Linked DNA regions of Homo sapiens: region 1 is linked to region 2. A link means that fine-mapping ties the variant in region 2 to the expression of a gene that starts in the linked region. Tissue or cell type: cerebellar hemisphere. Region 2 holds a variant in brackets; the other region holds the start of a gene. All regions are shown on one strand. Distances are between the middles of the regions.

The links. PIP is the estimated chance that this variant, and not a neighbour inherited with it, causes the effect.
Region 1: GABRA5 starts here. The variant in region 2 is fine-mapped to the expression of GABRA5 in cerebellar hemisphere (GTEx, PIP above 0.99).

The regions. Positions count from the first base shown.
Region 1 is chr15:26,863,643-26,869,970 of GRCh38, forward strand. It overlaps GABRA5 (gamma-aminobutyric acid type A receptor subunit alpha5), which reads left to right and starts at 3,420. Exons shown (of 11, transcript NM_000810.4): 1 at 3,420-3,469; 2 at 5,087-5,151; 3 at 5,533-5,692. The coding sequence starts at 5,607.
Region 2 is chr15:26,175,200-26,183,254 of GRCh38, forward strand. No RefSeq gene overlaps it. Among named protein-coding and RNA genes, the nearest start is that of LINC00929, 63 kb to the left of the region's middle. RefSeq lists enhancers at 1,543-2,044, 2,045-2,544. The variant C/T (reference allele first, on the strand shown) is at 3,701.

The DNA of each region.
Region 1 (6,328 bases), 690 kb after region 2:
AAAAGAAAAGAGAAAAAAGATAGGTTATGATGAGTTAAAGATGCCTGCTGTAAACCCTAGAGCCATCACAAAATAAAATGAAATATGGCAAAATAGAGATATGATAAATAAAACACTAAAGAAGATAAAATAGATACAATGAAATTAGAAAAAAATTTAGTATCATTTTAAAAGCCCCATATGCCTCTATTTTCCTAGTTACATAAAGGAGGCAAAGTGTGAAAAAGAATAGACCATGTTCTTCTAAGGACCCATGTCAGGTGTCAGTAGAATGGAGGTGATGCAGGAGGGTGGGAACGGATGCCCCATGTTTTTAAAGCTGTGGGGTGTCTTCTCTTTTTATTTTTTTAAATCCAGAAATGTAGATCTGTTCATTCATCCATTCATTGATGTAAAATCTGGTTTCTGAGGTGTTCAGCTTGATGACTGATACATGTATACTTCACCACCACAATCACATGCACTCACATTTCCATCACCTCGCAGAGCTGCCCTCTTTTGTGTGTGTGATGAGAACCCATAAGATCTACCCTCTTAGCAAGTGTGAAGTATATATCGCAGTGTTGTTAGCTGTAGTCACAATGTTGTATAGTAGATCCCCAGAACTTATTCATCTTGCATAACTGAAATTTTGTACCCTTTGACCCACATCTCCCCGTCTCTCCTTCTCCCAGCCCGTGGCAACCACTATATACCCAGTAACCCCCTTTCTGGGGATATAGTCAAAGGAAATAAAATCAGTATCTGAAAGAGAGATCTGAACTGTCATGTTCATTTTGGCATTTTTTACAATAGCCAAATAATGGAACAACCTAAGCATCTGCCAATGGATAAATGAATAAAGAAACTGTGAGATACGTACACACACACACGCACACACACACACACACACACGTATATGTATAACATACATATACGACAGTATATTATTTAGCCCTAACAAAGAAGGAAATCCTGCCATTTTTGACCACATGGATGAACCTGGAGAACATGCTTGGTGAAATAAGCCAAGCACAGAAAGACAAATAGCACATGATCTCACTTATACCATGGCACTGTGTTCATGTCTCAGCCACATTTACCACACCCAACCACGCAAACACAGCCACTGTCTCAGTTCCTGCCCCTGACCGGGGTACAGGGTGGGTGCTCTGTGAACACGTGTTCTACTCATGGCCCAGCTTCCCCACCTTCAGCTATTTTAGGCTCTGACACTGGAAATGAAATTCTTATGAAGCCCGGGCCAAGGCTGAGGTTGTGTGGAACTAGGGTGCCCTCTACTGTCTTCCACAACGATCACGACATTGCTTAATTTCATTCAATGAAGAGAAAATGCTAATGAAACAAATGGGAATTCAACGGATAGCCTATTATTTCTCAGCACAAATACAGAATTCTATAGTAAAACAAAAATCATTGAAATGGTAGTAAGCACTCTTCTAGCAATGTGAGTTTCTGTAAGGTTCTGATGGGCCTTACGATTTCACTGTCCCCTCAGGGCAGTCCATCTAAAGTGAGGCTATGTTATGTTACATAAACACTAGGAGGAGAGAGAGTGGCATACCGTTTCATTACAGGGAAGAGAAAAGAATTTAAGCAACATGCTGAAATACAATGTTAAAGAATGACTCTAACTTAAAATGATTTTTATATATTCAATAATATGTGTTGTGTGGACATAAAGCTGATAGAAAGTGTACCAAAAAAAGTGGAAGTTTTAAACATAATCCATCAAAAGAACATATTTCCTTACAGCTGACATTTCTTTTATTATTAAGAATTAATGTCTATAACCCTCGCTAATACAAAAATCATCCCTTGTTTATATACATTTATTTTTGCAAACTCACACCGAATGACTTTGTGTGACAAGCTGTGAAGTTTAAAATTTACCAATTCTTCCAACTCTTTGATTTGCATTATGCTGTTTAATCCTGAGAGAAGAGCAGCTGTCGCTGGTATTAGGTGTTAGAATTCCAACACCTAATAGGTGAAAATTATATTAGGCTGATCATAAAACCATGTTGTTAACTTTTTAAAATTTAATGTCTCCCAAGGAATTTCACCCTAGTGGTACATCTTTTGGGAAATTAGAAAATGAAGAAATGCATACGTTCAGTGATCCATTTTAGAATTAGAAAATTCAAATTAGCATCTTATTTCATTCATATTTCCTGAAGAACCACTGGAAACAGTTATTTAATAGTGTGGCTAAATGTATATTCAGAGAAACACTTCCTGTATATTTGCACATTTATGTATATTTATGTCCTATTCCTGGAATAGATTTACAAGTTTTGTTTTTCAGAAAATTTCAGAATTTCTGGAATGTGCAGAAGTATTAACAGGTAACTTAGATTTGGAATACACTGTATTAGAGATAACTGGAAAAATGAGAGGCTTCCTACACTGGAAGGTCAAAGATCTTTCCTGGAGGGGAGTTAGGAATTTGCCTTTACTTACCATTATTCTGTTAAAAGAGATTATGAATAATGCAGTTTCACAAAAGGAATGGGACAATGGTGTAAGTAAACCTCCCCATCACGTTTTCAGTGGCTTTCCTTTGAGTCTTGAACGTTTTCCACTGGGTGTTATAGTCGAGAGTCCCCCACCTCCTGAGGAAGCAAGACCTGGCAAACCCAAGACGATGCGCTCTTACTTGTGTTGTTTGAAGGGGCCCTGCTGCCGCGCAGTTGTCATTAATGCCACCCTCACCTCCCAGGAACTGCACCACTAGGACGGACGACACACCGACGTAATGACCATAGTAAGACCCCATGTACGTGGCTAATGAGGCAGTGACCCGACGTGGCTCGGAAGCCCTGCTGGGGAGATCCCGCCCCGTCACCCCAGAGGCGCTCTCCGACCTGCAGCCCCCAGGGCTCCTGGCCCTTTCCCGTTTGCCACTGCGGCTTGTTGTCAAGAAATGGAACTTCAGAAAACCCCCAGATATACACTGCGTTAGGTAAGGATTTCATTCTAATCGAGTCCAATGTGACCCTGGCTTTCCCTCCCGTAGTTATGCATTCCTGTCTATGAGTGAGATGAAAAGAATGTCCACAGGCCAGCTTCTTTCAGAAGCGCCTAAGAGATGCGCATGTAAGGGGTGCCATGGAGCACCCGGGAAGGACCCAGGCCTGGGCAGGGAGGCGTTGGGGCCGGCTCTAGGGAGCAAAGCTGTCGGAGTCCAGGCCTCTATCACCCGACTGCTGACACTGCCCTCCCATCCCTGCTCTACAAGCGGGCGGTGGTGACTACACGAGGCGCCGAAGATGCTGTTGAGGGCCCTGGAGAAACTTCAGCAGAACAGGGCCTCTCCCCTTGCAGGCCGAGCCGGGGGCCCTGCGCCCTCCCCCTCCGCCCAGCTCGGCCAAGGGCGCATTTGCTGAGCGTCTGGCGGCCTCTACCGGAGCACCTCTGCAGAGGGCCGATCCTCCAGCCCAGAGACGACATGTGGCGCTCGGGCGAGGTGAGAGCGGGCGCGAGTGCGCCGGGGGCGCTGGGGGGCTCTGCGGCGGGCGGCGCGCGGCCCGGGGCGCGGCGCGGAGCGGAGCTGCAGGGCGGCGGCGGGAGCGCGGGGCGCAAGAGCCGCTCCGCCGGGAGTGCCGGGGAAGTTCGCGCTGGCAGCATGGGGCGGTGACGCCGCACCGGCCTTCCGCGCCTGCCAGCCGGGCGAGAGCAGGCGGAGGAGAAGGAGGATGCATCCTCACCGACGGCTCGCCTCCCGGGGCCGGCGCGCAGGGTGAGCCCTGGGCGCGCTGGGCCGGGGCAGTGGGGTAAGAGGACGCGAGCGGGGAAGAGGACCGGCCGCCCCGGCTCGGTCCGCACCCTTCTCCTCGGGGCGCCTGAGCGGCAGGCTGCGTGGCCGGGGAGGAGAGGTGCAGAGCAGGCGGGGCGCGCAGCCAGGCCAGAGCGCAAACTTTACCCTGGCGACTGCGGGGCTGAAGCCGGGCGCGGGAGAGAGCGGGGTCCGGGCGGCTCATCCCTGCCGGACGGGGCACCAGGGCGCGGTGACCGGTTGGGGGTGGGGGACACCCGTTGCCACCATCACGGGAGCCGGAGGGGTGAGATCGCCCACCTGGAAAGCCAGCGTCAGCCCCGGGGCTCTGAGGCGCGCGGCGTCCCGGCGCTGCTCGCGGGGTGGACTCGGACCCCGCGGGGGTGTCGCGCGCGTGTCGCGCGGGCTGCTCGAGGCCAGGGGACTTGGAGTCGCTGCTGCACCGCGCGCTCCCAGCCCAGGAGGAAGGCGCTGCCTGGCGGAGCGCTTGGCTCGTACCCGGGGCAGGAGCAGGGGAAGTCTGCGAAAGCCGGGAGCGAGCCGGGGAGGGCCGGGGAGCTGGAGACCCTCGGCGTGCCGCTGCGGACCGCGCGGGTGGCGACCGCGGGTGCCAGGGCGACCCAGGCTGCGGCTCCGCAGTGCAGCCCCCGCGCCCACCTGCCCTGGCGCGCCGGCCCTGGTGAGCCTCTGTGGGGGTCCGGAGGGTCGTGGGAGCGCAGCCTCTCCTGGGGGTCCCTGGCTCGGGGCTGAGGGGCGGCGGGAGGCGCCGCCCGGGTTTCCCGCATGCAGCGCCGCGTGCTCGCCGCCTGGCTCTGGCCCGGGCCCCGCGACGAGCCCCCCGGACGCGCCCAGGCGACCACCGCATGGCACCCTGCCCTTCTTGGCAGGAGTCGCAGAAGGCCTTCGCTTCCGAGGTGGAAGTACCTGTTGTGTCTCCCAATTCCGGAGTTTGCGGGGGATGGGGGTTGGGGGGGCTTCTTGGGAAAATGCTTCTTTTCGAAGCATACTGTTCGGATGCCTGTGAGCACCTATTTGCGTTATGCGCATACTGAGAAATGCGTGTTTTCAGGAAGGTTAGTCGTTGAGCCCAGGGACAATGTCTGCCTGGATCTCAAATACATTAATTAGGGTCCAGCATTGAGTGGAGAGACTTCCACAGATGCAGTGCTTAAGTTATGTAGTCACGGGGACCGAATGCCGGGAAAGTAGCCACACTCTTTTATAGGCAGTTGTCACAGTATTGTGATCCTGCAGAAAACCTGTTTCTTAAATGTGCTTTTCCCCACTTCTTTCCACGTACTTTCTCAGTGCCTTGCAGAGAGAGGAGTAGCTTGCTGGCTTTGAACGCGTGGCGTGGCAGATATTTCAGAAAGGTAAAATTACTACACTTGTGGATTTGACGGATACAAAATACAGTCGCTCAGATAACTACAGCGTTTATTTTAATAATTGGACTAATGGTTTATTTGATAACATGCTAAAAAACAAAACAGAGTATTTGAGTGGAAAACAACGAATTAGGGTGATTCTGCACCCTGAGTAGAAGTAAAAATAAGCCTCTTGTTACTTATTTTTATGCTCCAACTTACTGCCCAGTGAGGGTGATGGAAAATACCTGGTGTGCAGCTGTCCTGGGGAAGGACAGCGGGCTCCTTTCTTTGCAAATTGTTGTGATAGCAGTGTGATTTGATTCCAGGAACTGTGACACAACAGCATTGATGTTCACGTGCTTCCCCGCTTTGTGTGCTTTTCAGCTTCAAGAACAAGCTGGAGAAGGGAAGAGTTATTCCTCCATATTCACCTGCTTCAACTACTATTCTTATTGGGAATGGACAATGGAATGTTCTCTGGTTTTATCATGATCAAAAACCTCCTTCTCTTTTGTATTTCCATGAACTTATCCAGTCACTTTGGGTAAGTTACCATCTGTGCTTTTATTTTATGATGTTAGGGACACTGGTGCCTTTCAGACATGTTACGGGAGCAGCACATCCATTGAGCAAGTCCTCGCCTGCCACCATTGCAGTCCCAAGCCCTTCACTTGTTGTAAATAAATGAAGTCATTGCCCTGACCCACGCTTTCTTCCTGAGCAAGGCTGCTCCTCACGTGGGGTCTCTGAAGTGAGTCAGAGAAAAAAAGGCAGATTATGTTTTCAGAAATGGAAGCTGAAGATGATATCCGAGTCAGCTGTGATTCTTCCTACTCAGGTTAAAACAAGATTCAGGAGTTCACATGCATGAAGGACAGTCACTGCTTGTTAGACAAGGCAGTGCCAACATTTCAGTTGCCCTCCACGGTTCCATTATGCAATCAAAGTTGCCTTGAAAGCCAGGCCTATGCTACTTGGCATTGAAAAGGACTCACAATGGTCCTGGCCTGAGCCAAGGCCCTAGAACTGTGACCATCTGAATGCAGGTGCAGACACCATAAACCACAGGTGCCTGAAGATCTGAAAGACACCCCTGAGGTTCTGGCACTATCATTTCCAGTAACCCCTCTTTCATTTTAGCCTTTAGTATCCGCATACCAACTCTAACCTTTTTTTTCAT
Region 2 (8,055 bases):
TGACCTCATCATCTGCCTGCCTCGGCCTCCCAAAGTGCTGGGATTACAGGTGTGAGCCACCTTGCCCGGCCTAGAACTTGTAATGCAATTATTGTCAACCCTGTGGGGATAGTTCCAAAAAGGGGGCTTGGATCCTGATAAAACAGCTTATGGCAGTGGAGAGAGGAGGAATTCTATTGGGCTGTAATAAATAATTGCTAGGGAGACTGACTGAATCCAGGAAAGAAGATTAACTTGTAAATAGTTCTGTCTGGTATTTAAATGACCCTTGGAGATAGTCATTATATTCCTAAAAGGGTGCGTTCAGGTGTGGTCACATCTTGGTCCTCTTTTCTGCAACAGAAAATGAGATAACAGGGAGGGGAAGGAAAGATACTTGTTCTCCTTGGTGGGTCTGGATCTTACGCAGATAAAGGAATTCAGCTTCCTTGGTGGAGACCGTTGCGGAGGGGGTTAAGGTGAGAGTCCTTGAGGCTTCCTCAGTTCAGCATATCAGCATGTATTTTGGGTTACTAGGGTTACTAGTTTCTGAGCCCCAACACCACCTGCCTCACACTTGTGAGAATAAAAGGCATCAGGAGTGAACGTGCTTTGAAAATGCATATATTTAAAGGAATGAATCTGTTTATACATGCAGATTTTGTATAAGCATTCATCCTGGCTGCTTCATTTTTTTTCAGTGATTCCAGTTTTCTCTGTTCTACTCCTTCAAAAGCCCTCCACCCATCTTAATCTAGGAAAACCCATAATGACATTTCTTTTTCTAAATTATTTTTTATTTTTAGAGACAGAGTCTTGCTATGTTGCTGAGGCTAGCCTTGAACTCCGAGCCTCAAGCAATCCTCCTACCTCAGCCTTGAGAGTAGCTGGAATTACAGGTGTGTGCCACTGCGCCCAGTTTATGATGGCATTTCTTAATGTTTCCACTATGAAATATTAATAGGTATTATGTTTAAAAAGAACCTTGCCCCATGGTCAAATATGTCTGAGAAATCTTAAGTTAAAGGACATTGGAAATGGGCTTCTCACTGAGGGCCTCTTCTGAGTCACTGGTAAGCTGCTGCATTATAAATCCCCAAAGGTGAACAGAAGATGTAGCGTGCAGCATTCTGCCAAAGGTTCCGTAACTTATTTGCACATGGAACCCTCTTACGTCCCTGAGATTATCTCCTGAGGACAGACTTCAAAAACCATTTTGGGCAGATTCTTCTGTGTTCCTGGCTTTTCTCCCATCATGCACTTACAGCAGGAGATGCATTTGTGCAGCACGCTGGGCTGGATGGACGAGGCTGCTTGTGTCTAATGGTAGAGGAGGGGGCTGAAGCAGCCGCAGACACCCCTCACCCGCATCTTCCTGAACGATGAGGGGATACATGCTTAGGGCACACTGGTGACCAATTTGCAGCACATGAGTTTATAGGGGCATAGGAGTGCTCCTCGGTAATACTCTTTCCCAGTTTCAGAGATCCTGGCTTCCTCAAAGCCAGTAACCCAAAGTGGTTGGTGTGATGATGATGCCACTTTTGCCTGCGTTCTAACCATCTTCTCCCGATTTCTGGGGCCTGATTACAGCTGCACCAAGGAAGGATATCCCATAGCCTAGCGCAACCGCAGTCAAGCCACAGCCATCTCTTCTGAACGGGTTCGATTCCCACCTCCCTCCAACCTCTTCAAAAAAGTGCCTTTTTGGAAACTCCAGTGCCACCATGATCCCGTGCTGAAGGCCCTTCAGGGGCTCTGCGTTCCACACAGATTGCCATCAAAGCCCGCAAGCAGGTCTTATGACGTGGGACCCGCCCACACTTTCCCTTACTAACCTCTGCCATGCTGGCCTGCCTGGAGTTCTAGGACAGTCCCCACCCATGTCGCCCCTGGGCTTTCCACTGTCTCTTCCCCTAGACTGGATGCTTTGGGGTTTTCCCTCGTCTCTTTGCAGGGCTAAATGCCTGCTGTCCTTCAGTGCAGCTCTCCCTGAATGTCCAGCTGTGACAGGCCCCCTGCTCTAGCAGTGTCTCTCTCAGCGTCATGGCCAGAGTGCAGCCGGCTATCTGCCCTGTGCCTCAGATCATTTGCTCCTTGACTTTGCTGCCTCTCTCCCAGGGAGCTGCCAGTCTCATCCAATGCTTGACACTTCAGTGCTTGGTGGACTGTTTTTTGCATGGATGAATGAATCAAAGAAGTGCACGAAGTTAAGTCACACCCAGGCCTTTCCCACCAGGAGCCTCCAAGCCAGCTGCGAAGCAGTTGTCTGCACCACTGACCCCCGAGAAGTCAGGCCCACTAATGGAAACCAGCACTCACTAAATGCCGTGGAATCAGCGTGGCTGTAACAGCCTGCAGAGTGCCACGGGGGAGTGGCCAACATCAGAGCTCTCAAAGAGCAGAGCCCTGCACGCTTGGAAAAGTGCTCTTAGGAGCCCAAGAAAAGTGGAAGAAATATTAAGACTTCACTTAATAAATAAAATATAAGAGGGTTAAAAAGCATGATGTTCAGATATCATCACCTCCAGACTCCCATCAGTTAAAACAGCGTTCTCAGAAAACACGTTTCCCAGTGTTGTGTATAAAACTTAAGTCCCAGTCAAGAGGATTTCATAGGCCCACCTGCCACAGAGTGAGCAACACTCTGACACTTATCTTTTCAGCCATTTTTTTCCTTTTCCTTTTCATCCTCTGGCTGTTAGTGAACCACGTCTTCAAAATATTTCCTTGACCTCTCCCATTCTCTCTATGCAGCTGGGTGTGCCACATGCACTGGCAATCCCTGAAACAAAAGCCACTGGCTGAGGGTAGAGGTGGAGCCTCCCCCGGCTCCTGAGCTCACAGCGCCAGCACCTAGCGCTGCACCTGTTTCTGAAACAGGAGGGGTTCAGTAGCTGGGTACAGCAATGAACATGATGGCTAAAGCTGTTCTCATGGCAATTTTGCTGCTATTATGTCAAAAATGAGTTTCAGGGAATCTAGGTGAAAAACAGAACACTGTGCATTTTTGTCTTCCTTTTAAAATTAATTTAATTGACAAATACTAATTGTATCTATTTTGATCTATGTATACATTTTAAAAATATTCAGTCAAACTAATTAAGATATCACCTCACCACCTTACAATGGATTACGTACAGCGTTAAAAGGGAAGGAAATTCTGTCATTCGTGGCAACAGGGATAGAACTGGAGGCATTATTTTAAGTGAAAAGAGCCAGGCAAAGAAAAACAAATACTATATAATCTCACTTAAATACGCAATCTGAAAAGACTCAACTCATGGAAGCGGAGAGTAGAAAGGTGATTACCATAGGCTGGGGGGACGGAGGGGGATGAGAAGAGATGCTGACCCGAGTGTACAAAGCTCCAGTTAGACTGGACGAGTAAGCATTAGTAATCTATTGCTTTGCATGGTGACCACAGTTAATAGTAATGTATCGTATATTTCAAAATTGCTAACAGAATAGATTTTTCCCATGGCACGCTTTTTTCTTCCTCTAGCCAACTCGGGAACACTGGCCCTCTCCTGCGGCTGCCGCCCTTTGGAAACACTCAGGGAGAGGCATAGGTCAGGCAAGGCAAACGAGGGAACGGCTGCTGGCTGCTTCTGGGGAGAGTCTTCCCCAGCCTGGCTTTCGGAGGAGCCCCCCTCCTGGATCGCTGGCTGCCTGCCCTCTCCCCTGGTGCTGACTGCTCCTGTCTGTTCTCACGTGCAAG[C/T]GGTGTGTTAGGGATACAGTCCATGAGGTCCTCCCCTGCGATGCCAGAGCTGGACTTGGAAATCTCTGCATCCCAAGCCCATGCTCGAGCACACGACTTGTCATAGTTTGTAAGGCTTGGCCATGTATTTATAGCCTTTCCTCCCCGAAAACAAACCCCAGCTGATGATCCATGCTAATCATTTCAAGCAGAGAGGGCCTACCGAGGTGGTCTCCATGGCAATGATGTGCGCTTGGGTCTCCTAGGAGACAATTACTCGTGTGACATACTTCAGATTCGCTTTACTGCCCAAAATGTGAAGCGATTTTCCTTTACACACTGAGCCATGCTCAGAATGTGTAAGTTAAAATTTAATCATTTCTAACCATAGTTTTATTCCTGTGGTTTAAAAAGGTGAGATATTCCAAAGGGGAAAAAGAGGCCTAAAAGGTAAGGAAACGGCACACAGCTTCTTGAATTGCATTATAAATTACCTGACAGGGGTAGTTATGAGGCTGACAGAACACATTGGAACTCATCTATGTTGTGTTTTAGGGAAGGTTTGGTCCAGTGGATGGGGTTCTCTGTTGACATTTGATATTTATTTCAATTTAATCTGGAATAATTTATAACACATAACTTTGGCTGGAGCTGGGTTTAAAAACACATGGAACTTCGTGCATGGCACAGGTCCACACCATGCATGGCACAGGTCCACTCCATGCATGCATTACACAGATTCACATAATGCGTTGCACGGGTTCACTCCATGCATTGCACAGATTCACATCAGCACTGCACAGTTTCACTTCATGCATCACACAGATTCATGTAGTGCATTGTGCAGGTTCACTGCATGCATGGCACAGGTTCGCATCATGCATGGGACAGGTCCATGGACTGACTCATCACCAAAGTTGCTGTTTACCCAATATCACAGCTGGGCCAGACCACATAAATATGTGCTTGTGGCCAAAACATTTTATTTGTCTTAAAGCTCAGAAACCTGCCAAGCTCACAGATACAGGCTTTGAGGGTGACATCCCATGTTCTTGTGAGGCGTCAGTGCTGAAATACCTGAAACACAAAGGTGGGACAGTCCTGGGGAAGTGGAGCAGGTCAAGGCATTGTATGATCACACCTTACCTAACTTTCACAAAAAAAGAACTGGTTAATCTCAGGCTCATCCACAAGAGGGCTGCCTGTTATTATTCCTTGCTACAAAACCACCCAGTGGTGCCTGAGAGAGACAGGGAGCAGGCGAGCTGGGGCAGACACAGGGTGCGCAGCAGCCTGGGGGCGATGTCTCTCCTCCTGTTTGAGTCAGCACAACCCAGGACATGTATTTGAGTACCCATGGAGGACCAGAGGATCTGCAAGCGCATGGAGTGGCTGGACCCTGCCTTCCCAGAGGTCGTAGTCAAATCAGAGGAACAAACATAAGCCACACCTGTCTTAAAATGGGGCGCCGCTATTCAGAGGTGCGTTCTAAGTATTTGGGGAGCTCAGGGAAGGGAATGACTGATTTTGTCTTGAGAAAAGTTGAGGGTAACATGGAGTTGATAAAGGAAGAAGGATGAGGGAAGGCCTCAAAGAAAGGGTTGTCTTTGAACTCACCAAGGAGGAACAAGTTTCAGAGTCCAGGAAGATGGTGACAAGAATTGAGTTCAGGTGTAGCAAACACCCAGCAGTGCCAAATGCCTGGCATGAGAAATTGAATACCAAGATGTCCGAAATCCAGGCTGCACTACAGATTTCATGCTGTTCTCCTTATGTGACATTGTAACTTTTATATTCTGTCTCTCAGACCAGAGCCCCAGAGAGGAGGGCTTTTGTTTCAATTGTTTCTAATTGCAACATAAAACATGTTCAAATTTGTTGATTAAAAAATGAAATATTTGTTATTGGGGGAAATGGGAAAATGTTGGTCAAGGGGCACAAATTTCAGTTAGCAAGATGAATACAACCTGGAAGCCTAATGCACAGCAAAGTGACTATGGTTAATGATACCTTACTGTATACTTCAAATTTGCTAAGAGGACAGATCTTAAGCTTCTCACCCAAAAAGAAAAAAGGTAACTATGTGAGATGATGGATATGTTAATTAACATGTTTGTGGTGATTATTTCACAATGTATCTGTACATCAAATGATCAAATTGTATACCTTAAATATATACAGTTGTCAAATATACTTCAATAAAAATAAAAGTAAATCAAAACATAATTACAATATCATTATCACACACCTAAACAAATTTCCTTGATTAGTGTTTAATATTTTTTTTCTGTTGCATCGATCAGGGAACATTCGAACACAAGACCTGGATCAAATTACTTTGTCCTTTGCCTTAAAATTTCTATTATATTTCATCACAAATTAGCATGACACAGTGTGTGCTGAAGTCTGCTCAAGTTCATGACAGATTTTCTTGTTTTATAAATACTTTCTTTCACTTATCTCCTTATATACCAGTATTTCTCTTACCGGTATGACTGATATGAACTTTTTTTTATCAAATGGCCTTCACTGATGGAACAGATATCTGGATGGGTTCTTTTTTATTACCGCATAAAGTTGGAGTATGGCATCATCCAGGTACTTAGAAATGAATACAAATACAGCATTTTGAAATTCCTAAAAAAGAAAAAGAAAATGGATATAAAGTTTCAGTCATGCAAGATGTGTAAGTCCTAGAGAACTACTGTACAGCATAGTGCAGATAGTTAACACTTGAAAATATGTTCAGAGGATAGATCTTATGCTAAGTGTTCTTACTACAAACATACACACATATATACATACGTCAACACACATACACACATATATACACACACGCACATACACATATACACACACGCTCACACATACACACATATATACATACATGCACACATGCACACACACATATACACACGAACACAAGGAAACTTTGGGAGGTGATGGATATATTTAATATCTTGATTGTGGTGATGAGATCACAGACAGCATATATCCAAACTCATCAAATTGTATACATTAGATATGTACAATTTTATATATTAGTTATACCCCCAATAAAGCTTAAAAAAAGAAATAAGTAAAGGTTAAAAACAAGGATAAAAATGAAATAATGAATATATCAATGTCCATGTAATTCATTGAAAAAGAAAAAATGTGTTGCTGGTTTAAAATTTGTTATTAATTTATTTTGGTCAGGACACAAGGTCCTGGATTTTCTTCTTATGAAGCCAGTTGCTCAGTATATATAAAAAATGGGGCCAGGTGCAGTGGCTTACATGTGTAATCCTAGCACTTTGAGAGGCTGAAGTTGGAGGATCACTTGAGCCCAGGAGTTTGACACCAGCCTGGGCAACAAAGTGAGACCCCAATCTCTGTAAAAAAAAAATTAAAAAAAAAAAAAGCCAGGTGTGGAGGTGCACACCTATAGTTCCAGCTACTCAGGAGGCTTCAGCGCAGCAGGTCGAAGCTGCAGTGACCTATGACCACACCAGCCTGGGTGACAGTGAGACCCTGTTACACACATATAAGAACGAGTCATAAACCCATTGTACCTCAGGCCTGCCTAGCCATTTTCCCAGTGTTTTCTCTGGCTTTTTATAAAAATAGAGGAAAGAATACAAGTTGATTAACCTCGTACTACTCTCATAGTTGGAATCTGATGTGACAGTTGTATGTATGTAATCTACACATATGTGCATGCACTCAGGAAGAACCCACTGAGCCAGGTGACTCAGACAGATTAGAATTTCACAACTATGTGCTGAATCAATAAAAAGAGACCAAAAGAGTATCAAGAATGCATTGCTATCTATATCACATCTTTCTTCCATTTTCTCTAGTGAATCAATTACCTGGGATGAGGTTTAGACCTTTTAATTAGCTGAATTACTCAATTTCCTGACACGTCAATCCATAAAAAATGGGAAAAATGATTTAACTGCTGGACTCAAGCAAAAATAAAATGAAAAGAAGTGTTCAACAAATATAAAACAGACCAATTTCACAGCATGCAAGTTGAATTAAAGACCGACATTATGAATATAGTGCTTAAAAATACATCAGAAAGTATTCTTATGTAATGATGCAGATGTGATGTTTCTGAGCTGTGGTTGAGTCACTTAGGACAGTTTTCTTTTTATGGGACCACCAAGAAGATGCTAGGAGCAGAAGTCAAAACACATTAACTTTAACAATCTTTAAAAATCTGTGCCAATAAAATAACCCTAGTTCAATGAACCCTAAGGTAGACTATGGACCTTTGAAAAACTCCAGAAATGAAATTTCTGACTTGAATCTAGCAGGTTGCTAGATTATGATATTTGGGGGAATATAGGAGAAATTATAGTCTTAACAACAAACATCAGAATGGAAGG